Homo sapiens: one gene and its partners. The protein of the gene in region 3 interacts with the protein of the main gene of each other region in a pairwise test. Each region holds a gene or a part of one and is shown on either strand. Other genes may lie near its edges.

What was found.
Region 1: the proteins of MOB1A (region 3) and KXD1 interact in binary tests that used the Homo sapiens proteins (3 or more experiments, as listed by UniProt).
Region 2: the proteins of MOB1A (region 3) and IKZF4 interact in binary tests that used the Homo sapiens proteins (3 or more experiments, as listed by UniProt).
Region 4: the proteins of MOB1A (region 3) and FAM118A interact in binary tests that used the Homo sapiens proteins (3 or more experiments, as listed by UniProt).

The regions. Positions count from the first base shown.
Region 1 is NC_000019.10:18,560,869-18,567,890, forward strand, and holds part of KXD1 (kxDL motif-containing protein 1), read left to right. Parts: intron 1-1,167; 5' UTR 1,168-1,188; coding exon 1,189-1,289; intron 1,290-2,897; exon of another isoform or gene 2,898-2,911; intron 2,912-4,000; coding exon 4,001-4,153; intron 4,154-4,265; coding exon of another isoform or gene 4,266-4,326; exon of another isoform or gene 4,327-4,341; intron 4,342-6,263; coding exon 6,264-6,310; intron 6,311-7,022.
Region 2 is NC_000012.12:56,024,021-56,031,042, forward strand, and holds part of IKZF4 (zinc finger protein Eos), read left to right. Parts: exon of another isoform or gene 1-975; coding exon of another isoform or gene 976-1,033; coding exon 1,034-1,138; intron 1,139-2,760; coding exon 2,761-3,021; intron 3,022-3,759; coding exon 3,760-3,927; intron 3,928-7,022. UniProt on the Homo sapiens protein: DNA-binding protein that binds to the 5'GGGAATRCC-3' Ikaros-binding sequence. Transcriptional repressor. Interacts with SPI1 and MITF to repress transcription of the CTSK and ACP5 promoters via recruitment of corepressors SIN3A and CTBP2.
Region 3 is NC_000002.12:74,175,870-74,182,834, forward strand, and holds the start of MOB1A (MOB kinase activator 1A), read right to left. Parts: upstream 3,011-6,965; 5' UTR 2,806-3,010; coding exon 2,792-2,805; intron 2,446-2,791; exon of another isoform or gene 2,386-2,445; coding exon of another isoform or gene 2,246-2,385; intron 1-2,245. UniProt on the Homo sapiens protein: Activator of LATS1/2 in the Hippo signaling pathway which plays a pivotal role in organ size control and tumor suppression by restricting proliferation and promoting apoptosis.
Region 4 is NC_000022.11:45,304,983-45,312,954, reverse strand, and holds the start of FAM118A (protein FAM118A), read right to left. Parts: upstream 3,022-7,972; 5' UTR 2,772-3,021; intron 1-2,771.

The DNA of each region.
Region 1 (7,022 bases), on a different chromosome or scaffold from region 3:
GCTAATTTTTGTATTTTTAGTAGAGATGGGGTTTCACTATGTTGGCCAGGCTGGTCTCGAACTCCTGACCTCGTGATCCACCTGCCTCGCCCTCCCAGAGTGCTAGGATTACAGGCGTGAGCCACAGCACCTGGCCACCTCTGCTCTTTTGGAGCTGACGTTGTGGCGGTGACAGGCAAACGGGTTAGCTGATAACTAGGATAATTTCATGAAGAGGTGAACCAGTGAAGCAGTTAAATCAAGGTAAAGGGTGGCTGGGCGCAGTGGCTCAGGCCTGTAATCCTAGCACTTTGGGAGGCCAAGGCAAAAGGGTCGTGTCAGCCTAGGAATTTAAGAGCAGCCTAGGCAACATAGCGAGACCCTGTCTCTTAACAAACAAACAAACAAAAACAAGGTAAAGTAGCCTGGGCGCGGTGGCTCATGCCTGTAATCCCAGCACTTTGGGAGGCTGAGGCGAGTGGATCACCTGAGGTCAGTAGTTCGAGACCAGCCTGGCCAAAATGGTGAAACCCCGTCTCTACTAAAAAATACAAAAATTAGCCAGGCGTGGTGGCGGGCACCTGTAATCCCAGCTACTTGGGAGGGTGAGGCAGGAGAATCGCTTGAACCTGGGAGGCGGAGGTTGCGCTAAGCCAAGATCGCGCCATTGCACTCCAGCCTGGGTGACAGGAGTGAAACTCTGTATCAAAAAGAAATAAAAAAACGAGGTCAAGTAGTAAGAGAAGCGGTAAGAGTGACGGGAACAGGAGTCATTGACCTCTTGGGAGAGGAGACATTGGAGGTGGTGATGATTTGCTGAAGCAGCCACACACGTTCAGCTTGTGAGGACAGCAGTTGTTAGGCAGGGGATGAGGGAGGAAGCTGGCAGATCTGTGCAGGTGAGAGGTACCTGTGGCCTTGGGCTCATGGAAGTGGGAGGTGATGGGATTCTAATGTGCTTGGGTACAGTTTACAAATACAACCTCTCTTAGTTTGCCCAATACCTCCAAATTCCTGGGGTGGCACACCTGAGGTTCAGGTGGCATGACTGAGCCACAGTCACACATCCCCACTGTAGGATACCACCACGGTTGGGTTAGGTTCCAGCACATGGCGGTCCCGGCCTGGCCTCTTGGTCCCACCTCACCTGGTGACTAGTGCAGACCACTCTGTTCTTGCCTGTTTCAGGCAGCGGAGGAGGAGAAAGAGATGGACCTCCCGGACTCGGCCTCGAGGGTCTTCTGCGGCCGCATCCTGAGCATGGTGAACACAGATGATGTCAACGCCATCATCCTGGCCCAGAAGAACATGTGAGTGGCGGCTGGGGGACCTGAGCGTGGGAAGGAATCCACAGGCTGGCCAACATTCTTGTCTTGCCCGCCCCTACCCGGGGCCCACACTGGTGATAAAATGAAGGAAATGAGCAAATCTGTCGCTGGCTCCAAAGTAAATTCCTTCCCGGCCTGGAGGCGAGGCCTTGGCACAGGAAGCAGGGCTTTGGGGAGATTTTGCAGCTGCGGATGGCTTGGCGGGGGCCGCAGGGGCTCCTGTCCCGAGACCTGGGGTGGGAGAGTTGAAGGACCAGAGGGGGCCACATGCAGGTTTTTTTGTTTATTTGTTTCTTGTTTTTGAGACAGAGTTTTGCTCTTGTTGCCCAGGCTAGAGTGCAATGGTGTGACCTTGCCTCACTGCAACCTCCGCCTCCCGAGTTCAAGCGATTTCTCCTGCCTCAGCCCTCTGAGTAGCTGGGATTACAAGCATGTGCCACCATGCCCAGCTAATTTTTGTATTTTTAGTAGAGACGGGCTTTCATCATGTTGGTCAGGCTGGTCTCGAACTCCTGACCTCAAGTGATCCACCCGCCTCGGCCTCCCGAAGTCCTGGGATTATAGGCCTGAGCCACTGTGCCTGGCCTTTATGCAGGTTTTATGCTGGTGCGCCTACTTCCTGGTGAAGGACTAGTCTCCCAGAGCCCAGGCTGTGTCTGCACAGTGCCCAGGGTCTCTTGGAGCGGACATAAAGGCCTCTTGTCCTCACTGGGGTTTGGTGCTGTGGCTGCTGAAACCTTGCCCTAATTCAGGCCTGCCCTGTGGGGAAGAAAGGCTAATACCAAGCTTGTCCAACCCTCGGCCTGTCCAACCCTTTGAATGTGGGCCAACACAAATTCGTAAACTTTCTTAAAACATTACGAGATTTTTTTTGTGATTTTTTTCTTTTTCTTTCTTAACTCATCAGCTGTCGTTAGTGTTAGTGTATTTTATGTGTGGCCCAAGACAATTCTTCTTCCAATGTGGCCCAGGGAAATGAAAAGACTGGACACCACTGGGCTAATACAGTCTTGGAGTGGAAGCACAGCCTCCCGCAGCTTTGTTTTTGTGTCTCTGAGCCAGAGGCTCTTCTCAGCTGTCACGACACAGTACAGACCTGATTTCCTTACCTTTTCTCCCAGACCCAGAGCAGCTCCGAGTCTCAATAGTACCTGTCTCTCTCCTGTGTCTTTTTTTTTTTTTTTTTTGGGAGACAGAGTCTCACTCTGTCGCCCAGGCTGGAATGCAATAGCATAATTGCTGCTCACTACATCCTCTGCCTCCTGGGTCAAGTGATTCTCCTGCTTCAGCCTCCTGAGTCGCTGGGATTATAGGCATGCACCACCATGCCTGGCTGATTTTTTTTTTGTGACGGAGTCTCGCTCTCTCGCCAGGCTGGAGCACAGTGGCGCAATCTCAGCTCACTGCAACCTCTGCCTGCTGGGTTCAAGCGATTCTACTGCCTCAGCCTTCCAAGTAGCTGGGACTACAGGTGTGCGCCACCACGGCCAGCTAATTTTTGTATTTTTAGTAGAGACGGGGTTTCACCACGTTGACCAGAATGGTCTCAATCTCTTGACTTCGTGATCCGCCCGCCTCAGCCTCCCAAAGTGCTGGGATTACAGGTGTGAGCCACCGTGCCCGGCCCTGATTTTTTTATTTTTAGAAGAGATGTGGTTTCACCATGTTGGCCAGACCTCAAGTGATCCACCCTGCCTCAACCTCCTAAAGTGCTGGTCTCCTTTTTTTTGAGACATAGTTTCGCACTGTCACCCAGGCTGGAGTGCAGTGGCGCAATCTCAGGTCACTGCTATGTCCGCCTCCCGGGTTCAAATGATTCTCCTGCCTCAGCCTCCCGAGTAGCTGGGATTACAGGCGCCCGCCACCATGCCCAGCCAATTTTTGTATTTTTGGTAGAGACGCGGTTTTCCCATGTTGGCAAGGCTGGTCTCGAACTCCTGACCTCATGATCTGCCTGCCTTGACCTCCCAAAGCGCTGGAATTGCAGGCATGAGCCCCCATGCCCGGCTGGTCTCCTGTTTTTTTAGGTCAGATTCAGACCTGGCTCTGGGAAACTTCTAGACTGAGGGGAGACAAAGCCAGACACAGACCCTCCTGGCCCTATGGTGTCAGGGCTGGGCCAGAGGAACAACCTGGGGCTAGTGGAATTAAAAGAGTCTGATTGGGCCAGGCACGATGGCTCACTCCTGTAATCCCAGCACTTTGGGAGGCCGAGGTGGGTGGATCACGAGGTCAGGAGATCGAGACCATCCTGGCTAACCTGGTGAAACCTCGTCTCTACTAAAAATACAAAAAATTAGCCAGGCATGGTGGCGGACGCCTGTAGTCCCAGCTATACTCGGGAGGCTGAGGCAGGAGAATGGTATGAACCTGGGAGACGGAGCTTGCAGTGAGCCGAGATCGCGCCACTGCACTCCAGCCTGGGTGACGAAGCAAGACTCTGTCTCAAAAAAAGTCTGACTGAATAGAGGTAGACAAGGCTACATGAGAAGGACACACTTGAGTAGGGTTTTGAAGGTTGAATAGGAGTTTGCTAGGTGGCTCAAAGAGTAGGTAGAACTCTGCAGGACAAGGGAACAGCCCATGCAAAGGTTGTGAAGCAGGCAAGGGCTTGGCATGAACAGTCTTCTGGGCCAGGTTGGGCAGGGCCCTGAAGCTGGGCAGTGAAGCTCATGCCCTCTCTCCACCATCAGGCTGGACCGCTTTGAGAAGACCAATGAGATGCTGCTCAACTTCAACAACCTGTCCAGTGCCCGCCTGCAGCAGATGAGCGAACGCTTCCTGCACCACACGAGGACCCTAGTAGAGATGAAACGGGACCTGGACAGCATCTTCCGCCGTATCAGGTGGGTGCTCAGTGCCACCCCAGCCCAGCTGACCTCTGCCTCCACCTCCCCATCTGAGCCTCAGTTTCCTTCACATACCAGGGTAAAGGGAGATTTCTGTTTGTTTTACAAGGCTTCACTGCGCACTTAAGTGTCTGGGACAATTCCAACCCTGGGATAAAATCTTGACGTAAGTTTATTTACTGATTGATTAATTGATCGAGACAGAGTTTTTTTTTTTTTTTTGGAGACGGAGTCTCGCTCTGTTGCCCAGGCTGGAGTGCAGTGGCGCGACCTCAGCTCACTGCAAGCTCCGCTTCCCGGGCTCACGCCATTCTCCTGCCTCAGTCTCCGGAGTAGCTGGGATTACAGGTGCCTACCACCACGCCTGGAGAATTTTTTGTATTTTTAGTGGAGATGGGGTTTCACCGTGTTAGTAGTCAGGATGGTCTCGATCTCCTGACCTCGTGATCCAGCCGCCTTGGCCTCCCAAAGTGCTGGGATTACAGGCGTGAGCCACTGCGCCCGGCCGAGACAGAGTCTTGATCTGTGGCCCTGGCTGGAGTGCAGTGGCGTGATCTTGGCTCACTGCAACCTCTGCCTCCTGGATTCAAGCGATTCTTGTGCTTCAGCCTTCTGAGTAGCTGGGTCTACAGACATACTGTACCACACCCAGCTAATTTTTGTTGTTGTTGTTTTATTTTTGAGGTGGAGTCTTGCTCTGTCGCCCAGGCTGGAGTGCAGTGGTGCAATGTCAGCTCACTGCAACCTCCGCCTCCCAGGTTCAAGCGATTCTCCTGCTTCAGCCTCCTGAGTAGCTGGGACTACAGGCGCATGCTGCCACGCCCAGCTGATTTTTTGTATTTTAGTAGAGACGAGATTTCACCGTGTTGCCCAGGCTAGTCTCAAACTCCTGAGCTCCAGCACTCTGCCTGCCTCGGCCTCCTAAAGTGTTGGGATTACAGGTGTGAGCCTAATTTTTGTATTTTGTGTAATTTTTGTATTTTTTTAGTAGAGACAGGGTTTCCCCATGTTGGCCAGGCTCATCTCGAAGTCCTGGCCTCAGATGATCCATCCACCTCGACCTCCCAAAGTGCTGGGATTATAGGCATGAGCCATCATGCCCAGCCTTGCAGTTTATTTATTCTTAAAAAATGTAACACAGTGCGGCTGGGCGAGGTGGCCCATGCCTGTAATCCCAGCACTTTGGGAGGCCGAGGCAGGCGGATCACGAGGTCAGGAGATCAAGACCATCCCGGCTAACATGGTGAAACCCCGTCTCTACTAAAAATACAAAAAATACTAAAAATACAAAAAATTAGCTGGGCGTGGTGGTGGGCGTCTGTATTGCCAGCTACTCGGGAGGCTGAGGCAGGAGAATGGCATGAACCCAGGAGGTGAGCCGAGATCGCGCCACTGCACTCAAGCCTGGGCGACAGAGCGAGACTCCGTCTCAAAAAAAAAAAAAAAGTAACATAGTGCTAGACACATAATGAAAAGGCAGGAATGGCTGGGCACAGTGGCTCATGCCTGTAATCCCAGCAGTTAGGGAGGCTGACGCAGGCAGATCACCTGAGGTCAGAAGTTTGAGACCAGCCTGGCCAACATGATGAAATCCCGTCTCTACTAAAAATACAAAAAAATCAGCTGAGCATGGTGGCACGTGCCTGTAATCCCAGCTACTTGGGAGGCTGAGGGAGGACAATCATGTGAATCCGGAAGGTGGAGGTTGCAGTGAGCCAGGATGGCACCACTGCACTCCACCCTGGGCGACAGAGTGAGATTCTGTCTCAAAAAAAAAAAAAAAATTTATCAGAGAAGAGGCCACATGTAAGAAGCAGCCTCGCAGGGGGAGCCCCCAGCCAGTGCCTAGGCTCAGAGCACCCAGAGTCTAACTAGTTGGGGGTTGGTGCCTACCTTGGGGCTGGAGGCCGGCTGGTGGGCGACTGTCAGGGCCGTGGCTGCTGGGCCGAGCACCTAGAGAGAGTGAAGATGTGAGGTGATGAACAGTGTGGGGGTTCTCACTCCCGTCTCCCCTTGCCCTCAGCTGGCAGCAGGGGCTTGTGGCCAGCACCAGGCCCAGCCTACCTGCTCAGCAGGTTAAGCCCTGTGTGCCTTCTCTCCCCTGCAGGACGCTGAAAGGGAAACTGGCCAGGCAGCACCCAGAGGCCTTCAGCCGTAAGTGTCACGCAGGGTTCCTGCTCCCGAGCACGTCAGCACTCTCCACCCAGGGCAGGCTTCTGGAAGGCCACCTTGGGGCCTGATACTGAGACCAGGCTGTAATGGGCAGTGGGTCTGGGGAAACCTGGGGTGGGGGCAGGGTCAGGGTGCTGGCCTGGTCCTGTCAGCAGCTGGCAGAGTGGGCACTAGGACGGGAGTCCGTGCCCCGTGGGGAGGCCGCACAGGAGAATGTGGATAAGCAGCATGACAATCCTTATCCCTGTGTGCATTATGAGCCATCTCAGAACAGAGCACGGGCTCATGTGACACCAGCCCCGACATCGTCTCGCCTTCCCTGAGCCCCAGCTTCGAGGATCTGTCCCATGTCCAGCTGTTACCCACAGTCACCCATGGGGTGGGGACTGTGAGTATCACCGTTTCATGGAGAGGGAAACAGAGGCCCAGAGGGGCAGGACTTGAGTTCGCATCTGTCTGGCTAGAGAGCTCGCGTGTTCTCTGGGGTACCATTCCATGTTGCCACCACCTTAAAGGGCTCTGCAGGCTGAGCCTGGGTTCACACCATCTGTTGAAAAGGCCGACAGCTCTCCATCCCAGGGCCTCCAACAGCAGTTTACAGAGCAGGGAGCTGGGCTGAGGGGAGGTCATATACCTAGCCCAGGTAGTGCAGTGAGCCAGGTTCGCCCTCAGGGCTCCTGTAGGCCTAACCCCA
Region 2 (7,022 bases), on a different chromosome or scaffold from region 3:
ACATGTATTTTTATTTCACCTATATATTTGTGTAGAAGATTGTGGGGAGGAGGGATTTTTTTAAAAAAGACATTCATATCTTCCTTTAGGTATGTTATCTGATTTTGAAAAACATTATGAAAGCCTCAAAAAGCATTTTTACAAAGCAATTTATCAGAAAATTAAAACAAATATACTGAGAATAAGTTGATCACTTAACTGTCAATGAATATCAAATAGTAAACACGTGATTGGAATCAGATCAGTAGGAGACTTTCTAGAGTAATCAAATTTTTGCTGAATTTAGAAAGTCTAAGAGGCCCAATTCTTCCCTACTAAGATTGTGACCACCAATTGGCTGTGTAGGTGCTGGTTAAGGACATGGACGCTTACTGTCTATGATCCCAGTTCCACACTAGCAGCTATGTAACCTTAGACAACTAACATAACCTCTTTTGTACCTCAGTTGCCTCATCTGAAAAAATCATGATATTAGCACCTACTTCATATAGTTGTTGTGAGGATTAAATGAAATTATTCATTTCAAGTGCACAGAATAAAGCCTGGCACATAGTAAGTACTCAATTAATATTATTAGCTGCTATGATGATTACTAATATTATCATTAGATTCAAGGACAATTCCAGTTACCTTTCCTGCAGATCCTGAACCGGCTGGGGGCTCCAGAGAGGAACAGTAGGGAAGAATGTCTGTCCTGAACATCTGTCCCTTCTGCAGCCCCCATTTTCCTCTCCGCCCTGGCGCACCCAGCCTCAGCCCTGCTTCCTGTGGACGTCAGGCAGTGATGCTCTTGCCCTCAGGCCTAGATAAAGGTAGGGTAGGCAAGGCCCAGCCACTGAGCTCACAGAAGGCAGCACCAGGCATCCAGACTGGCGGGGGCACAAGGTATGGTGCCCAGCATACAACACTGCTTTGTACATGGCTATGAAGGAAATGTTTGTGAAATTTAACTGAATTTTTTTAAAAGATTAGGCAATGGACAGTAGATATCTCCAGCTCCAGCTTTACCTGCCCTCTTGTTCTCTCCTCCAAGGTAGCGGGGACTCATCTCTGGAGAAGGAGTTCCTCGGGGCCCCAGTGGGGCCCTCGGTGAGCACCCCCAACAGCCAGCACTCTTCTCCTAGCCGCTCACTCAGTGGTAAGTGTAACCTCCTACCACCTCCTGGCAGTAGGCACCCCCTGTTGCATTTGGCCTTCAATTCACCTTCCACTGGCAACCATTTCCCCATCGTCACCTCCTGCTGGTCTCCTGCTTAGTCTCTAAGAGCAATGAGGAGCCCAGTGTCTAGGGTTTTTCTGGCTTCTGAAAGGAGAGTGAATAGTCAGTCACTGGCAGACTAGGGTGGAATTAAAAGAGGTATGGGTGGGATTAAGGTAAAAGTTTCAAAGAGAAATTATGGAATTAGAGAAGCAGGTAGATAGAAATGGTCATCAGATGGAGTTAGATAGGAAATAGAGAGTAGAAGGACCTCCCCATCTCCCCACAGCTCATTCTCCTACCCAGACAGGGTCCCCATGACTGCCTCTCCCCAGCTGGCCCTAGATCTGTGACATTCTCTAAATGGTTGGAGTAGCCAGGAATGTAGGTCGGAGCTAGAGCCAAAGCCTTCTCCTCAATGGTTCCTCCTTCCTTTACCCCTCCTGCCCTGCCTCAGAGTTTTATGGAGGTGGAGGGGGTAGAGGGATTCAATCTAATGAGGTGGGAGGGAACTGTAAGCATGTCTGTCTTCCAGGTTTGCTCTCTTTGGCCTGTTGTCCCCCTTCAGTCTTCCTAGATCTGTTTTCCCGCCACTGTTAACTTGCTGGCTTCCTGCCCAGGGCCAAGCCAGACATCTTTCTTCATGACAAGAGAGTAGAGAAAAAAGCTCCCCTTAGTCGCCTCCTCTCCTCAGCGACAGAAGACATCCTATGTACCCCCAACTTTTTTCTTTTTGAGATGGAGTCTTGCTCTGTCGCCCAGGCTGGACTGCAGTGGCGTGATCTCAGCTCACTGCAACCTCCGCCTCCCAAGTTCAAGCGATTCTCCTGCCTCAGCCTCCGAAGTAGCTGGGATTACAGGCGTACACCACCATGCCCAGCTAATTTTTGTATTTTTAGTAAAGACAGGGTTTCACCATGTTGGCCAGGCTGGTCTCAAACTCCTGACCTCAAAAGAATCCACCCGCCTTGGCCTCCCAAATTGCTGGGATTACAGGCGTGAGCCACCACACCCGGCCCAACTTTTTTCTCTTGAAGCCTATTTGCCTGGTGGGTGGGAGAAAAGGTTGTCTCAGGTTCCAGTAGGATTCTGATATCAGCAGCAGGGATACTAGGGTGTTAGTTCCATTTAAGGCTTGAATGTCTCAGGGCCTAAAGACACCCTCTTAAACTTTAAGAGTGCCATTCTGGGCCAGGCGCAGTGGCTCACACCTGTAATCCCAGCACTTTGGGAGGCCAAGGCAGGCAGATCACCTGAGGTTGGAAGTTCGAGACCATCCTGACCAACATGGAGAAACCCTGTCTGTTCTAAAAATACCAAATTAGCTGGGTGTGATGGTACATGCCTGTAATCCCAGCTACTCAGGAGGCTGAGGCAGGAGAATCACTTGAATCTGGGAGGTGGAGGTTGCGTCGAGCCAAATTCGTGCCACTGCACTCCAGCCTGGGCAACAAGAGCGAAATTCCATCTCAAAAAAAAAAAAAAAAAAAGAGTGCCATTCTGGCCTGGGAGCAGCTTCCCCCTTTGCCTCTCTCTATTCTAAACACCATCCCACCCCTCAGCCAACTCCATCAAGGTGGAGATGTACAGCGATGAGGAGTCAAGCAGACTGCTGGGGCCAGATGAGCGGCTCCTGGAAAAGGACGACAGCGTGATTGTGGAAGATTCATTGTCTGAGCCCCTGGGCTACTGTGATGGGAGTGGGCCAGAGCCTCACTCCCCTGGGGGCATCCGGCTGCCCAATGGCAAGCTCAAGTGTGACGTCTGCGGCATGGTCTGTATTGGACCCAACGTGCTCATGGTGCACAAGCGCAGTCACACTGGTAAGTAAGCCAGAGGGGCTCTGGGAGGAGCTCCCAGGGTGGGGTTGAGAGGCAGGGGCAGTGCTGGGACAACAGCAGGTATGGGGCTGGAGGAGGTCATGCAGGGAGTGGGTAGCCTCAGAAAGGGAAGGGTCTCACCCAGCACATTTTCCAGCTGACAAAACGAGGCAGGGTGGGGGTGGGTACAGAATTTGAATTCCCCTCAATACCTTTAGTTTCCTGGCACTCTCCTCAACCGCTGTTATAAAGAAAAGGTGATATTTTTCTCAGTATATGAGGGAGGGGAAAGTGTAGACTCAAGAATGAGCCAATGGTCCAATAGGGGTAAGACTCCTGGGTATTCTTTGGGCCCTCCCATCTAATAATTAAAAAACAACAACAACAACAACAACAACAAAACAGAAAACAAAAGCCTTCTCTTCTCAGCTTCCTTGGGCCTTGGGCTCCTAGGGCAGAGTGGGCCCTGTGGGGCTCAGTTTTTGGTAACAGTCTTTTGGCCTCGTGTTCCAGGCCCCTCTCCCTGCCACACACCTCTAATCCACACCTTCCCCAGGGTAAGACCCCAGGGATCCCCAAGGGATCTTCATAAATCAGGGTTTGTGTGCATTGCACTTCTGCCCGTCAGCAATGTGTTCAGAGCACCTTCCCTTGGGCAAGGTAGGGCAGAGGGTGGGTGATAGGTTCAACCTTCAAAGTTCCTCACATGCAGTCCTCTGGGATTTGTTCTTTCACTTGCAGGTGAAAGGCCCTTCCATTGCAACCAGTGTGGTGCCTCCTTCACCCAGAAGGGGAACCTGCTGCGCCACATCAAGCTGCACTCTGGGGAGAAGCCCTTTAAATGTCCCTTCTGCAACTATGCCTGCCGCCGGCGTGATGCACTCACTGGTCACCTCCGCACACACTCAGGTCAGTGTCTGTCCAGTGGGAGGAGGGAATGAGGCTCCAACACACCCAGTATGTAGAGCTCAGTGACTTCTCTTGTATTTGGGGAGTTCCAGTGTCTGTCATTGAGGAGGGGGGAGCATTTACAGAGCAGATAGGGCCCCCTGCCTCTCTCACCCATCCTCTGGGCAGCAAGGCTTCATGGGAAATTTGGGAGACACCTTGATGGGGTATTTTACATCCACCATATGGATGTAAAATCCATCTACTTGGAGCAAAAGGAATAGGAGCAATGTTCTTGGCTGTTAACGGTCACCCTTGGCCTGGCGCGGTGGCTCACGCCTGTAATCCCAGCACTTTGGGAGGCCAAGATGGGCGGATCACGAGGTCAGGAGATCGAGACCATCCTGGCCAAAATGGTGAAACCCTGTCTCTACTAAAAATACAAAAAAAAAAAAAATTAGCCGGGCATGGTGGCAGGCACCTGTAGTCCCAGCTACTTGGGAGGCTGAGGCTGGAGAATGGCGTGAACCCGGGAGGCGGAGCTTGCAGTGAGCTGAGATCGCGCCATTGCACTCTAGCCTGGGCGACTGAGCGACACTCAGTCTCAAAAAAAAAAAAAAAAAAAAAAAAAAAAAGTCACCCTTCCCTGACTTTTGTTTGTTTTTTGTTTTTTCAAGACGGTGTCTCACACTGTTGCCCAGGCTGGAGTGTAGTGGTGCAATTTTGGCTCCCTGCAGTCTTGATCTCCTGAGCTCAAGCCATCCTCCCACCTCAGCTTCCTGAGTAGCTGGAAGGATACTGCCACACCCAGCTAATTTTTCTATTTTTTTGTAGAGACAGGATCTCCCTATGCTGCCCAGGCTTGTCTTGAACTCTTGATCTCAAGCAATCGGCCCACCTCAGCCTCCTGAAGTACTGGGATTACAGGCGTGGTGTCAGCCACTGTGCCTGGGCTTTCCTGACTTTTATATTTTAGATTGTTGATGCCACAATCCATGCCCTATTACCCCCAACATCTAAGCCCCTGGGAAATCCCTCCTCTCACTCCCATCTGCCTCAGGCCCCACACCTGTCATCATCTTCACCCTCCTTCCTCCCACACCACCAGAGGTCTTGAGCAACCAGTCTGTCCTCTCCTTTACTTCCTTCTGGCTCCTGGAAATATCCATAGCCCTCTCAAATTGCAAAAAAGGGAGCCTAGGACTTCCAAATAGGAAAAGAGTATCCTATTTCTGTTCCCTATCCCAAGAGGTTGTCACCTTCCCAGAGGCAAGAGAAAGTCCAGAGGGTACCTAGAGATCAATGTTTGGAACAGTGCTGGGAAACTGGATTAACAAGGTTTTCTAGCCCAGTCAAGACTGTTTGAATCAGTATCTGTCTGAATCAGCTGGACAGATAGCACTTTTTAGGCATTTTACTAAGCTTTAGGCTTTTGGCTTGGACTTGGGAAGAGGCCAGGAGCTGAGCTGGCAGGAAGGAGGGAGCTCAAGATTGGGAAAAGGCAGGAAGAAAGGAAGGGGGAAAGAATTAGTAGGGTCTGTCCTTGGAAACTTTCCTGGCTATTTTTCTCTTCTTAAACTCTCCTGAGCCAGGATTTAAAGGGACAGAGCAATCATTTCATCACCCTCTACTTTCTCCATCCACTTACCTTGTTCCAGGTTCTCCCACCTTGTAATTGGGACCTCTTTATCTCTATGTATGTGGAGAAACAGGGAGAAAGATCATCGTTGATACATGCTTTATATCTACAGAGCATTTCACTTGTGTTTCTCCATGTGATCCTCATAACAATTCCAAGGTAGATGTGATTATCCCCATTTTGTTGACAAGGAAAATGAAGCTGTTGGGGGGAAAAATGAGTTGCGGGTCACATAGCTATTCTTCAGCCTAGCTGGAACCCCATCAAGGTCCAGTGCCAGAAATACATACTCCTTTTCCTCAGAAAAGGGGCTGCTCCCCCTGCTGGTTTGGAACAAGGATGGCTTGGCCCCTAGAATTCTTACCAACTACACAGTGAGGTGAACTGGGTAGATTTTGGATGTTGATCTGTAGATTATTAACAACAGAAGCAGACACAGATATACTGTCAGGTCCCATCTCTGTGAAGTGCTTTCTGTTGCAACCCCTATTATAAGAAAAAAGAGACTGGATGCATGTTCTCACTCATGTGGGAGCTAAAAAAGTTGATCTCATAGAAGCACGGAGTAGGTTGGGTGCAGTGGCTCACGTCTATCATCCCAGCAGTTTGGGAAGCCAAGGCGGGTGGATCGCTTGAGCCCAGGAGTTTGAGACCAGCCAGAGCAACATAGTGAGACTTCGTCTCTACTACAAAAACAAAAACAAAAACAAAAACAAAAACTAGGTGTGGTGGCACACACCTGTAGTCCCAGCTACTCAGGAGGCTGAGACAGGGAGGATCACTTGAACCTGGGAGGTCAAGACTTCAGTGTCCTGTGATCATGTCATTGCACTCCAGTCTGGGTGACAGAGTGAGACCCCATCTTGGGGAAAAAAAAAAAAAAGCCAGGCACGGTGGCTCACGCCTGTAATCCCAGCACTTTGGGAGGCCAAGGCGGGCAGATCACCTGAGGTCAGGAGTTCAAGACCAGCCTGACCAACATGGAGAAACCCTGTTTCTACTAAAAATACAAAATTAGCCAGGCGTGGTGGCGCATGCCTGTAATCCCTGCTACTCGGGAGGCTGAGACAGGAGAATTCCTTGAGCCCAGGAGGCAGAGGTTGCAGTAAGCCAAGATCGCGCCATTGCACTCCAGCCTGGGCAACAAGGGTGAAACTCCGTCTCAAAAAAAAAAAAAAAGTAGAGAGTAGAACAGTGGTTACCAGAGGCTGACTGAGAAGGGTTGGGAGTAGGTGGATAGCGAGAGGCTGGTTAATGGGTACAAGATTACAGTTAGATGGGAGGCATAAGTTGTAGTGTTCCACAGCATAGTAGAATGACTGTAGTTAACAATAATTTATTGTATATTTCAAAATCGCTAGAAGAGATTATTTTGAATGTTCCCAATACAAAGAAATGATAAATGTTTGCTGGGCATGGTGGCTCACGCCTGTCATCCTAGCCTTTGGGAGGCTGAGGCAGACAGATCATGAGGTCA
Region 3 (6,965 bases):
TTACTTCTAGGAAGAGGAATGGAATAGAACTATGGACTTTTACTTTACCTGAGTAATTTGGAATTTAAATAAGACTGATTAAGAAGTAAAAAAGAGCCGGGTGCAGTGGCTCACACCTGTAATCCCAGCACTCTGGGAGGGCAAGGCGGGTGGATCACTTGAGGTCAGGAGTTTGAGACCACCCTGACCAACATAGTGAAACCCCGCCTCTACTACACACACACACACACACACACACACACACACACACACACAAACTAGCCGGGCGTGGTGGCAAGTGCCTGTAATCCCAGCTACTTGGGAGGCTGAGGCAGGAGAATTGCTTGAACCCGGGATGCAGAGGTTGCAGTGAGCTGAGATCGCACCACTGCACTCCAGCCTAGGCAACAGAGTGAGACCCTGTCTCAAAAAAAAAAAAAAAAAAAAAAAGGAGGTAAAAAAGAATGATGAAAACACTAAAAATCATATCTGAAAAGTTTTTAACATGATAAAAAAAACTATATTGAACAAGGAAGAAAATATTTGCAAATCATAGATGTGATAAAGACTTGTATCTAGAATGTATAAAGAAGTCCTACAACTCAAAAAGACAGCCCAATTTAAAAACAGGCAAGGCCGGGCGCAGTGGCTCACGCGTGTAATCCCTGCACTTTGGGAGGCCGAGGTGGGCGGATCACTAGGTCAGGATATTGAGACCATCTTGGCTAACACGGTGAAACCCCGTCTCTACTAAAAACACAAAATATTAGCCAGGCATGGTGGCAGGCGCCTGTAGTCCCAGCTACTTGGGAGACTGAGGCAGGAGAATGGCGTGAACCCGGGAGGCGGAGCTTACAGTGAGCCGAGATTGAGCCACTGCACTCCAGCCTGGGCGACAGAGCAAGACTCTGTCTCAAAAAAAAAAAAAAAGAAAATTAACAAGTGCTATGAGAGGTGTGGGGAAATTGGACCCCTCATAGAGTACTTATGGGAATGTAAAATGGTGCAGCACTTTGAAGTTTGGCAGTTCCTCAAAAGGTTAAACATAGTTACCACTTAAGCCAGCAATTCTGCTCCTAAGTATATACCCAAGAGATATGAACACATACATCCACGCAAAAACCTGTCACATATGTTCACAGCAGCATTATTCATAATGGCCAAAAAGCGGGAACAACTCAAGTGTCCATCAAGAAGGCCAAGTTTTAAAAAAAGAAAGTCTCGGCCGAGTGCGGGAGTGGATCATCTGAGGTCAGGAGTTCGAGACCAGCCTGGCCAACATGATGAAACCCAGTCTCCACTAAAAATACAAAAATGAGCCAGGTGTGGTGGCCGGCGCCTGTAATCCCAGCTACTCGGGAGTGTGAGGCAGGAGAGTCGCTTGAACCCGGGAGGCAGAGGTTGCAGTGAGCCGAGACCGTGCCATCCCCGGAGGCAGAGGTTGCAGTGAGCCGAGACCGTGCCATTGCACTCTAGCCTGGAGGACAGAGCGAAACTCCGTCTCAAAAAATAAAAAAAAAGAAAAAGTCTCGTATTAAGGTCCACAAAGCAACTGTGCATTCACTAATTAAATATCAACTCGTAAGAAAAAAGTGGAGGAGGGAGGAATACTTCTATTAATATGGAAGTTAAATCTAAATCATACAGGCTTTTTGACAAGGTAATCGTATTTTAGAGACCATTCATTTACGAGAATAACCCAAAGGAAGGAAAATGAGACGCAGATAAACATATTCTGAGTAGTGCTATTTTATAATAGTAAATACTGGAAGGAATCCCAGTTTCTCACAATAAAGTGGGTAAACTCTGGTTATAAAAAATAAAAAAAAAACTATATAGTGTTTTTATATTGTATTTAATAAAAATGTCAAGCATGTGGATTACATCCATAACTAAAATTGGATAATTATTCAATCACAAAACACACATTTAAGCAATATACAAGGTAGAGAGAGACACCTGAGAATAAAAAATACTGTGCCAGAGCAATGCTTCTCAAACCTTAATGTGCATAAGAATCATCAGGGAATTTACAAGCTTTTTCATTTTAGCCTTGTTTGGTTGGGCTCAGGCATTATCTCTAAAATGAGATTCTAAGGTATGCCTATCAAGTTAATTGCTGTAGTGCACTAAAATGGCAATACTGTGTTTCTGCAATGGGACTATGAATTTGTTTTAACTTTCCAAATTATTTATAATACTGCAATGTACTATATAATAATGCTGTATGGTATATTACATAATGATTAAAAACACAGGATTCTACCGAGGACAAGAGAAGTTGGTTAAAATCAAAGCCAGTAAGTGGGCAGAATCAGAACTGGACAGAACGATCCGACTCCAAGGCCAGCATCTTAACTTCAAGCTTCTCAAACTGCGGCAACGCACATTCTCCTGGGGCGGCATTTAACACCGACAATAATGAAACTGGACCTATAACCGAGCAACGAGTTAAGTCGGCAAGGACGGTTTCTAGAAGCTCGAGACAAGAGAAACTGGGGGCTCGCGGCTCCGCCCCCAGATCGTCTCCCCGCCCTCGGGGGCGCTCGGGCGGAAAAGTTTGGAGGCGCGACGGCCCCGGGGCCTTTCTACTCCCCAGCCTTCACGCTCCGTTTCCTTTACTTCGACCTTCATCTCTGTCGGCCTCTCCCAACATCTCGGCCTCCCCCGCGGACCCGAACAGAGGCAAAACAAACGCCAGCTACCCCGCCCCCGCCTCGGCCCCCAGGCCGAGCCCTCGCCTCAGGTCCGGGGAGGCCTCCCCCACAACCTCGGCCCGCAGGCCCGGCGCCCGCGGCCCGACCCCACTCACAAGAGGAAGCTCATCTTCGGTCCTCAGAGGGGAGGCGAGGGGCCCCTGGCCCCCGCCTGGATCAGGATTCGGAGCTGGCTAGAGGGAGCGGACCGTCCTTAGCTCACGGGCAGCGGAAGCCGGGCCGCCGCCGCTCGGAGCCGGGTTTCTGGCCGCTGCGAGCCTTTGCAAACCTCGGCGCCCGCCTTGCCCGCCTACCCCACCTCGCAGACCCGAAATGCGGAACCAACAAAATCTCGCGAGCTAAGGTTTCGCTGCGCCGGGAGGGACTTGTCGCGCCCCCTTTCGCTCCGCCTCGTCCTAGAACTCGGCCAATCATCGCTCTCCAAGCCAGGACCTCCCTCCCCCGGAGGCGTGGCGAGGATGGCGGTCCTGCGGAAGGGGCAGTGGCTGGTCCTGCTCTTAGAGTATCTTGGTGCTGCTGGGTTTCGATCCCGCTCCCTAGGTTATGCAGGGACCTCTATAAGCGCTGCGTACTCCTGCAATTTTTAAAATTGTTAATTTAATTTTTACTTGAAATATATTCACATAGCATAAAATCTGTCCTTTAAACATGTACCCTCTAGTGGTCTTTTTCGGTTTTTTCTTTCTTTTTTTTTTTTTTTTCTGAGGTGTCTCGCTCTGTCGCCCAGACTGGAGTTCACAGTTCACTGCAGCCTGGACTTCCTGGGCTTAAGTGATCCTCTCGCCTCAGCCTCCCGAGTAGCTGAGACCACAGGTGCCTGCCACCACGCCCGGCTAATTTTCTCAAAGTTTTTGCAGAGACGAGCGTCTCACTGTGTTGCCCAAGCTGGTCTTGGACTCCTGAGCTCAAGGGATCCTCCTGGTTTGACCTCCCAAAATGCTGGGATCACAGGTGTGAGCCACTGCCTCCGGCTTTGTTTATGTTTTCAAAGTGTGCCAACCATCAGCACTAATTTTTTTTTTTTTTTTGACAGAGTCTCACTTTGTAACCCAGGCTGGAATGCAGTGGTGCAATCTCGGCCCGTTGCAACCTCTGCCTTCCAGATTCAAGTGATTCTCATGCCTCAGCCTCCCGAGTAGCTGGGATCACAGTCGTGCGCCACCACACCCGTCTAATTTTTGTATTTTTTTTTTTTTTTTTTTTTAGTAAAGACGGGGTTTCGCCATGTTGGCCAGGCTGGTCTCGGTCTTGAACTCCTGACCTCAAGTGGTCCACCCGCCTCGGCCTCCCAAAGCTGGGATTACAGGCGTGAGCCACCGCGCCCAGCCTAACCATAATTTTAGGCCATTTTCATCACCCCGAAAAGAAACCCCATACCTATTAGCAGTTACTCTTTATTACCCACCTCCCTCCTCCCAACCCCTGGCAACCACTACTCTACTTTCTATTTCCATGGATTTACCTAATCTGGACATTTCATATACACTGTGAATGGAAGCATACATTATGTGGTCTTTTGTGACTGACTTCTTTCACTTAGCATAATGTTTTAAAACGCACCCATATTGTAGCATGTATCAAAGCTTCATTACTGGCCAGGCACAGTTGTGGCTTACGCCTGTAATCCCAGCACTTTGGGAGTCTGAGGCTGGCGGATCACTTGAGCTCAGGAGTTCGAGACCAGCCTGGGCAACATGGTGAAACCCCGCCTCTACAAAAACACAAAAATTAGCCAGGCGTAATGGTGTGTGCCAGTGGTCACAGCTATTCGGGAGGCTGAGGCGGGAGGATTCCTTGAGTCCAGGAGATGGAGGCTGCAGTGAGCCAAGATGGCGCCACTTCACTCCAGCCTGGGTGACAGAGCCAGATCCTGTCTCTAAAACAAAAAAAAAAAAAAGAAAAAAGAAAAAAACTTTATTTCTTTCTATGGATGAGTAATATTCCATTATGTGAATATACCACATTCTGTTTACCCATTCATCTGTTGAGGAACATTTGGGTTGTTTCCACTTTTTGTCTATTATTAATAATGCTGTCGTGAACATTCATGTACAGGCTTTTGTGTGGTATTAATGCCAAGTGACAGCCAAGCAACGCCTTCATTCCACCATGGTGGAATGAAGAAAACAAAAGGAAAATAGTGGGAGACTTCAGTCATAGCTCAGCAAATGGTGGTGCAGGGTGCTCAATGTAAAGGAGTTTGCCCTGTACCTGACTGCACAATGTTCATGTTTCCAGTAATTTTATTTCATTCATATATCACTTGTCACATTAAGTTAATGATGTTAGGGCACATGAGACTGTATTAAATTATATTTACTATTTCTTGAATATATTTTTCAGTCAGTTATGTAAAGCAAATTTACATACTCTTTTTCCTCCCCTGAAAAAAATAAATTAATAATTTTAATTTTTTAAACTTTTGTAGTTTTTTGGAATTTGATTTATAAATAAATGCGATTTGATATCGCTATATGGAAGTTACAAATATAGGAACACAGATTTAGGCCGGGCGAGGTGGCTCACACCTGTAATCCCAGCACTTTGTGAGGCTAAAGTGGGCAGATCACTTGAGCTCAGGGGTTTGGGACCAGCCTAGGCAACATGGCAAACCCCCATCTCTACAAAAAAAAAAAAAGATAGCCGGGTGTGGGGGTGCACGCCTATAGTCCCAGCTACTTGGGAAGCTGAGGCGGGAGGATGGGTTGAGCCCTGGAGGTAGAGGCTGCAACGAGCCGAGATCACACCACTGTACTCCAGCCTGGGTGACAAAAGTGAGGCCCTGTCTCAAAAAAAAAAAAGAAAAAAGGTACATCTATTTATACTTCTGTGGTAATTTATATTACTTAAATAATATCATAAAAACAATTTCCAAATAACATGGGAAAAAAGAAATTCATGAAAGGTTTCCCTCTTTCAATGGTATTTTTCTTCAAGTTGAAGAATCACTGAGGATAGAAGTCCAGCTATTTATAAGAAAAACCTTTCAGGATGGCTAAATTTGGTTGGGGTAGCAGGGAGGGAGGATTTCAGGGTTAGGGAAAAATCCTCAATCAATATTTAAGCACGATATCAACATAGTTCACTTAGATATCAAAGATAAGATTTTTCCAGTAAAAGAGAGAAAAAGAAATTGTTCATTGCTAATTGCTACAGGACAATTTGTTCCCTACCAGACAAGGTCTATACAAAGACCGAAGAAGTTTTATTCACTTCTTGGCTTAGCCGGCCAGAGATCACTGCACACCATCTGGTCACAGCAGATGCTGAAAGCAGAAGCTAAGCGGCAAATTATGAGGCCTCCAGGACTAGATCTTCTGAACCTCTCCCCACCCGCCTTTCATCACACACAGTTCCCCTTTCTAGCTCCCTGAGGCAGGATTTGCAACTCTGCATTTTCATTCTGTGTAAGTGCCCATCCTATCATTTGCAAAACTCCCGTTTTACCCTAACAACCTCACCCACACAGGGCATCTTCCCACTTTGGTCGCAGTAACGTTCCTGCCCCTCCCAGCCAGTTGGTGCTGTTGGGAGCTCAAGCTTTTTTTTTTTTTTTTAAACAAAAACAAACAAACAAAAAACTCTACTCCTGTGACAGATTAAGGAATTTTAATCTTTGTCACAAATAGGTGAAGAGAAACAAACAGTAAAGTTGCTAACCAGCCTGGGCAACATGGTGAAACCCCTTCTCTACAAAAAATACAAAAATTAGCTGGGCATGGTGACTTGAGTCTGTAGTCCCAGCTACTCTGGAGGCTGAGGTGGGAGGATCCCTTGAGCCCAGGAAGTCCAGGCTGCAGTGAAAGGAGACTGTGCCACTGCACTCCAGCCTGGGCATCAGAGAGAGACCCTGCCTCAAAAAAATAAAAATAAAATAAAATAAGTTGGTAAGCTGTCCCTGTCCATTATCTCAGTACTCAGGTTGCAGACTTTGCAGACTGTGAAGGAGAAATCCCAATTTATCAGAAATCAAAAACTCACTCAGCGGCTGGGCATGGTCGCTTACGCCTGTAATCCCAGCACTTTGGGAGGCCAAGGTCGGCAGATCACTTGAAGCCAAGAGTTCGAGACCAGCCTGGCCAACATGGTGAAACCCCCATCTCTACTAAAAATACAAAAATTAGCCGGGCGTGGTGGCGTGCACCTGTGGTCCCAGCTACTAGGGAGGCTGAGGCAGGAGAATCACTTGAACCCTGGAGGCGGAGGTTGCAGTGAGCCGAAATCGCACCACTGCACTCCAGCCTGGACGACAGAGCCAGACTCTGTCTC
Region 4 (7,972 bases), on a different chromosome or scaffold from region 3:
TCACCAAAGGCCAATGGTTTAATTAAGCATGCCTACATGCTTAAGTCGTCTCCATAAAAGGCATAAAAGGGCTGGGTTCTGAGAGCTTCCTGAGAGATAAATACAAACATGCCGAAGTTTCTGGAGAATGGTACACCCCGGGGAGGGCACAGAAGCTCTGCACAGCATCCCCCACGCCTCACCCTACGCATCTTCTCATCTGTGTCCTTTGCGATATCTTTCATAACAAACCAGTAAACCTGAGTGTTTCCCTGAGTTCTGTGAGCTGTTCCATAGCAATTTTGAGACAGTCTTGCTCTGTCTCCCAGGCTGGAATGCAGTGTCAAAATCTCAGCTCATTGCAACCTCAGCCTTCCGGGTTCAAGGGATTCTCGTGCCTCAGCCTCCTGAGTAGCTGAGATTACAGGTGCACACCACCATGCCCAGCTAATTTTTTGTATTTTTAGTAGAGATGGGGTTCTGCTATGTTGGCCAGGCTGGTCTCGAACTGCCGACCTCAGATGATCTACCCTCCTCGGCCTACCAAAGTGCTAGGATTACAGGCGTGAGCCACCGCGACTGGCAAATTAATCAAACCTAAGGAAGGGTCATGGGAACCCCAACTTGAAGCTGATCGATCAGAAGTTCCAGAGGCTCAGGCTTGTGACTGGTGTCCGAAGGGGTGGAGGGCAGTCTTGGGGGACTGAGCCCTCAACTTGCGAGATTTGATGCTATCTCCAGGTAGTATCAGAACTGAATTGGAAGATACCCAGTTGGTGTCTCTTGCACAAATGACTGCCCGCTTGGTGGCAGGGAGAAACCTCTCCTCACATTTGGTCACAGAAGACATCTCTGTTGATTGTCGTTGAGTGAGATAATAGAAAAAGCACGATGGGTGGTTTTTCCACACACAGGTTCTCTTCAGGACCCCTAGCCCAGCATGGTCCTGGCCCACCTCTGAGACTCAGCCTCTCCCCACCCTGCCCCACTGCGTCCTGTGTGGTCATTAGACTATGGTGAAGCACACACACACAGTCACCATGAAGCACTAAGGCGACCACAGACCCTACGGTAATAGGACAAAAACCTCACTTAAAGTTCAGACCCCAGGCTCAGACAGGAAAGAGCGGGAACCAGTCTTCTGGGCCTGGGCTTTCAGAAGCTTAGCCCCGTTCCAGAAAGCCACAGTCCCCCACTACCACCGCCTTGGTCCAGGTCACCCCCATCTCTCATAGGGTCTTGCTTCCTCCAAAAAAGTCTCCCCACCACAGCCACATGGATGGTTCAAAAACACACCAACTCCCGCCCCTCTCCTCCCAAAGCCCTTCAATGGCCACCCACTCCCTTTAAGTACCAAACCCTCCACTCAGCTTAAACTGGGCATGCTTTGGTCCTGACTGGCTCTCAGAATCACACCCTCTTTCTTGTCACTCCCACCTCAAACCCAGTACTCTGCAAAAGTCCCAGCTTCTCCCATACCAGGTCTCTAGCGAGACACTTCCCTCACTTCTCCCCCTGACCACCTCCCACCTTCCTTCAGCTCAGCTGGATCATTTCTCAGGACAATGGCAGGTGCAGTCGTTCAAGAAAGGGCCAAGGGCACGGTGGGCCTCCGGGAGCAAAGCTGGGTTCTCCGCAGTTAGCATTCACTCCCACGCCACCTTCATTAGGTGTGCTCCAGCCACACCTCCCGCCTTCCAACACTGTGTGCCGTGGCAGCCTCTCTGCCTTTTGACATACTGGCTGTCCCCTGAAACTCTGCCTGGAATGACCCTGGCAAACTTCTCCTCTAGCTCAACCTTCAAGAATCAGCTCACCTGCTGCTTAGCATCTCCTCCCCACGACTCCTAAGACGCCCTCCTTAACACCCACCCCTTCCCAGAATCCCATGCCCACCCAGATGGGTTCCCTGCCAGCGACGACACAGCTTCCTCCAGATAAAAACGACCTACTTGTCTTATGCCCCAGGTCCCTAGGCCCTGACAGCAGGGACCGTCTCATCTCTATTTCCAGTGTCAATTCCTGGAGCCTATCAGGCATTCAAAAACAAAATGTTAGTTCCTTGAATGAAAAAATTAAGGAGGAGACAACCTAAAAGCGTCCCCATGTGCCCTAACTCGCTCCCTCCCCGGTTCGGCCGCCCTCGGCCACCTCAGGTCTCCTGCTCTATAGACTGTCCTGTGGGGCCACCTGAGTCTCAGCAGAACATTAAAACTTAAACCCGGCCCTGCACCTGCAGGCGCGGGGACCACAGCTTAGGAGGTGGTCGTCGGGCGCGCTGTTACCGTCTTAAGTTATCACCAGACCTGGGAACACTTCCACCCACGCCCCGCAGGTCCAGGGACCTCAAGTTGGAGAAACCTAGCCCTGAGATCAGGTCGGAGAGGGAGCCTCAGGGTGGGCGGCACGGGGACCCGGGGTCTCGCGGGGCTAAGGACACTGGGAACCACGGCTCCCCACAGGAAGATGCCCCGGGCCTGGGGGCTTCTGAGGAGGTTGCTGGAAGCAAGTCCCAAGGGAACCTCGAGAGTTTCCGGAACCAACAGTTCTCAGGGCCCACTAGCGGCCGGGGTCCTCAGGGGGTCTCGGAGTCCAGAGAAAATCTTGGAGTTTCGGGGTTCGCGGGCCTGGAGGGGCAGGGCGGATCCTGAGGGGGTCTCGGGGGCAGGGGCTCCAGGGGAAGAGCTGAGAGGGAGTCCTGGGGTGGCCCCGGGGCCGGGGCGGATCCTGAGGATCTCGGGGTCCCCAGGGGCTCCGGATGCAGGGACCGCGGGCCCGCCCCGCCCCCTCACCTGCGGCGCCTCCGAGACGCTGGTCCCAGCTCGCGCTGCCACCTCTTCGCCTCCGCAGCCGGCTACGCCTCCGGGGTCTCTCGGCGGCCGCGCACCCCTGACGCTGGGCGGGGCAAGGGGATGGTTCTCGGGGAGGGGACTGCGCAGGCACGCGGGCTAGAAGCGAGAGCGAGAGCCGGAGTCGGAGCCAGAGCGGACGCCACGCCGCCTCCAGGCGCCCCTCCGCGTTAGCCGGCAGCGGCGCCGCCGCAAACCCTTCCCCCGCGCGCCCGCCCCAGCCGCGTGAACGTTCCGTCCCGAAACCAACGGCCCCGCGGTCCCCGGAGGCCCCGCCCCGGGGAAGGGCGAAGCCAGGACGCGCGCCCCGCCCCGCCCCGCCGCCAGATCCTCTGGCACCGCCCACCTCGGTGACCACGGTCCCGCCCACCGGGGAGGCCACGCCCCCGGGGTCTCCAGCGCAGGCGCGGTCGGATGTGCGGGGGAGGGCTTGCGCTGGGGAGCGCTTGGGCCTAGAGTCCGCGTCCTAGCCCTACCTGGCCCGGCGAGCCGCGCGTCCCGTTTCCTCATTTGCAGAAAGGGGGCGGGAGCACTTTGCAGGGACGTGGCGAGCATCAAGTGCGATCGGAAGCGCTCCTTTGCAACTGCATCCTGCACCACACTTAGGCACAGCTTCTGTCCCCAACCCAGACCTGAGGCTGGTCTCCGTCCCCCAGCAGACTCCTGCCCGCTTAAATTGGCCAGTCACCAGCCCTACCTTCTTTCTTTTTCAGAGTACTTGTCACTCTCCGAAATTAGGTACGCTTGTGACTGGCTCCCACTTCCCCTGAGAGCCGGTACCTTGTCCGTCTTGTCCACTGGGGGTTCCCAGAAGCCAGCACGGCGCTGGGCACACCATGGCCGCCCACATGTTTGTGCGTGCGTGAGTGTCTTCCCCGCGCTCTTCCCTCATCAAGAAATACTCTTCCCCGAGGCTGAGAATTTCTCCTAAAAATACAAGAAATACTCTTCCCCAGCTTAGGTTCGATCCGGCGAGGCCCCCTGACTCCTCGCGCATCCCTGTCGCAGGTGCCGCGTCCGTAAAGGGTGTGATCCTAGCACCTACCTTGTGGGTATTGCGAGGACTGAGATTGTGCGTGGGTGGGCTGGGCACGGGCCCCCTAGCGATCTTATTACTCCTCCTTTGTCTGCCACTGAAGTCTTTTACCTAAACAAGACCCAATCCACTTCCTCTTCCCAGCCTGCCCTGCCCAACCTGGAGTCATTTATTACTTCCTGTCTCCTTGGCACCTTTTTTTCCTGCCTGATTTTAAAGTTGGCTGTTAATATCTCCCCCTACCCTAGCCCACCAGAAAGCTCTCATTTTGTGACAGAAGGTAGTGTTGTGTTAGCGGCCTGTGAAATTTTAGGGGGGGCCAGAGCCCAGAAAACAGTGGGAGCAGTGACTCTGGGATGAAGAGGGCAGCCCCTGGGTGCTCTGTATGTGGGGTCAGGCACTCCCTGAGCACTTTGCATGCGTTCCTTCATGGTGTTCTTGGAACAACCCTATGAGGAAGGCGTCTTCATTGTTATTCCAGTTTAACAAGGGGAAGCTCAGGCCCAAGAGGTTGTGTAGTTCCATGCCTCAGCCCACACATGTAACCACCACTGCATACAGCTCCCCAACCCCTGGAGGTGCGACTTAAATGCAAAAAAAGGCCGGTGGCTCACGCCTGTAATCTCAGCACTTTGGGAGGCTGAGGCAGGTGGATCACCTGAAGTCAGCAGTTCCAGACCAGCCTGGGCAACCTGGCAAAACCTCATCTCTACTGAAAATACAAAAATTAGCCGGGCGTGGTGGCGGACACCTGTAATCCCAGCTACTCGGGAGGCTGAGGCAGGAGAATCACTTGAACCCGGGTGGCAGAGGCAGCAGTGAGCTGAGATCATGCCACTTCACTCCAGCCCGGGCAACAGAGCGAGACTCTGTCTCAAAAAAAATTTTTTTTAATGCAAAAGATATATAATTCAGTTCATGAACACCTGCTCCTGTACTGGGTGCTGAAGCCCGAGACCTGTGGGAGATGTGGCCCCTTCCCTCATGGAGCTCCCAGGCCCCAGCAAGGATTTTGATTAACAGGACCTTATGGGCTGGGTGCTGCCGAGGTCAGTCAGACCCAAGACTCTGCGCAGGGCATCCTCTGAGGGGTGGTGGGACCAAAGCAATCGTAACCTCCAGCCACATTCAGCACCATCTGAGATAGGCTGGGAGCCTCAGCCCCTCCACCCAAAAACTCAGCCAGTCAGCCTTACAAGAGCAAGGACAGCAGGAAGGATGCCTCAGGAACAAGGGCTCCCCTTTTCCCCACATCTGAGAGAAACACAGCTTTTTCTCAGGTTGTGGAAAATTACTGAGAGACACTGCCCCCTGGGCACCTTGACCATTCTGAGTAGATAAGGGGGCAGATATGGCAGGTTGGCAAGAGGTCAGCGTGGTGCTGATGTGTGGGTGTGACACATCACTGGGCACTGTGGGGTGTCCGTGTCTGTCCCAGCCTCCACGCAGCCGACGTGAGCACAGCTCACACTAATGAAGATGTATGTGCACAGCAAGCCTTGTCGTCAGGAGCCCAGCGACCAGACCTAGTCCATATCTTTCCTTTTTAAAAGTTTTCAAATTAAAATATATTTTTTAAATTTTTAATTATTTTTCATGGAGACAGAGTCTCACCATGTCTCCACCAGTCCAGGCTGGTCTTGAACTCCTGGGCTCAAGTGATCCTCCCACCTCAGCCTCCCAAAGTGCTGGGATTACAGGCATGAGCCACCGCATCCAGCCCAGACTCAATCTATTTGTGTATTGAGGGTATCTTGAGGGGCGTTGGTGCATTTGGAATGTACATACCTGTGTGTGGGCATATACACTACTGTGAATTGAGCACCTACTGTGTGTCAGGCGCTATTCTAAGCTCTTCATAGGCATACCTTTCCTCACTGTCGCTGCCACCCTGCGTGGTAGGTGTTATTAATCTCCTTTAACAGACCAAAAAACAGGCTCAGAGGCGTTAGAGCAACTAGTCCGAGCTGGTAAGTGGGCATCTGCTTGGAATTGCTGCCAGGGTCTGTCTGGCTGCAGAAGGAGCTTTGTTTTGCACTGTCAGAAAAGAGAGAGCCAACAGATTCACAGGCAGGGTCCCTGGTGGGATGCTCTAAAGAATGGACAGAAAGGACACCAGAGACCACATAACAGTCCTCCCATCCTGGAGAGGAAGTTGTTGCTTTATTCTCTGGACAAACCCACATCATAACACATATATGCCCTGCACCGGTGTACAAGAACACACCCCACAGAGATAACACGCACCATGCAATATACACCCTCACACTGTGTGTGTCATTACACATACATGCTGTAAACACACTCATGGTAAAGGAGCTAATCAAGCCTTTTAGAGCCTCCCCACATGCCACCCATGCCCATGTCTATTTCCTGTAGAAACTCTCCTGCTGCTCCCTGCATCCGGGCAGGCTGGCAGGAGGGGCTGTGATGCCATTGCTGAGCAGCAGGCGGGGTGTGTATGGCAGGCAGGGGAAGGGAAGAGGGGAGCCTGCACCTTGGAAAAGTCTCTCTGGCCCTCCTTCTCCGTCAGCTCGTCTCCTTTCCCCAGACCCCACCCGTGCCCCAGCTCAGGACCCCTTACTGCTGGCCTGGAAGTTTTGCAACAGGCTGCTCTGAGGTCTCCACTCACCAGTCCATGTCACCTGCCACCAAGACACGCCATGTCCGGGAGGACTGGCAGGAGCACTGAACAATATCTGCTGAACACCCGCTGTGTAAGGAGCCGAGGACATAGCGGGAAAACCAGCACTGCCCTCGTGGAGCTGACAACATGGTGCGCCAGGCCCCTATTGACTCCAATAAGAATGGCACCATGTCCAAGAGGCCGAAGAAGAGACCCAGAGCCAGTGAATGAGACATGGAGTTTATTGAGGACTTAGATACAAAAGTGATCCAGTGGCAGTGGCCTGGACAGGAGAAACACTATCATTTGTAAAAAGCATGCAATTTATATAGCAATTTTTGTGGAGCCCTCTCCACCTAGCAACCTCCATTTAAGCCACAACAAAGGGCCTGGATCCCCTGTACGGCCTGCATTCCAAGGGACCAACAGGCCAGGGGTTCAGATCTCTTCATAGAAAAGAAGTGAGACTCCTAGTTGGCCACTCCCAGATTCCTTAGCTCAAGACTCCAAACACACTTTCTTCTTAGACCAAAGGGTCATTTTCAGGGTATGCTTAAGTTACTGCTGTCAGGTCCATCTGCCATTCACAGCGTAGTGGGTGGGGAAATGGACAGTGAACCCGGGTGTCAGGGCGTGATGAGGCTATGAAGACAAATGAAGTTGTGTAAGGGACAGATGTTGCTACAAAATTTAAAGGGCAAGACATAGACTGAAGAAATTTGCAAAATATATGTCAGACCAAGGACCTAATCTAGAATATAACAAGAACACTCACAGTTCAATAAGAAGGGGCCAGGCACGGTGGCCCAAGCCTGTATTCCCAGCACTTTGGGAGGCCGAGGTGGGAGGATTGCTTGAAGCTGGGAGTTTGAGACCAGCCTGGGCAACATAGTGAGACCCCTGTCTCAACTAAAAAAATTTAAAAATTAGCCAGACATGATGGTGTACCTCTGTAGTCCCAGCTACTTGGGAAGCTGAGACAGCAGGAGTGCTTGAGTGAAGCAGTTGGGAGGTTTCAGTGAGGTATGATTGTGCCACTGTGCTCCAGCCTAGGTGACAGAGCGAGACCCTGTCTCTAAAACAATAAATAAGAAGAAGGTCAACAACTCAATCTTAAAAATCTGTGTAAGGCTGGGCACAGTGGCTTACACCTACAATCCCAGCACTTTGGGAGGCCGAGGCTGGCAAATTGCTTGAGCTCAGGAGTTCAAGACCAGCCTCAGCAACATGACGAAACTGCGTCTCTACAAAAAATAAAAAAATTAGCTGGGTGTGGTGATGCATTCCTGTGGTCCCAGCTACTCGGGAGTCTGAGATGAAAGGATCACTTGAGCCCAGGAGGCAGAGGTTGCAGTCAGCTGAGATCGCGCCACTTCACTCCAGCCTGCATGACAGGGCAAGACCCTGTCTCAAAAAAAAAAAAAAAAAAAAAAAAAAACCACACTGGGCAAAAGATTTGAACAGATACTTCCCCAAAGATAT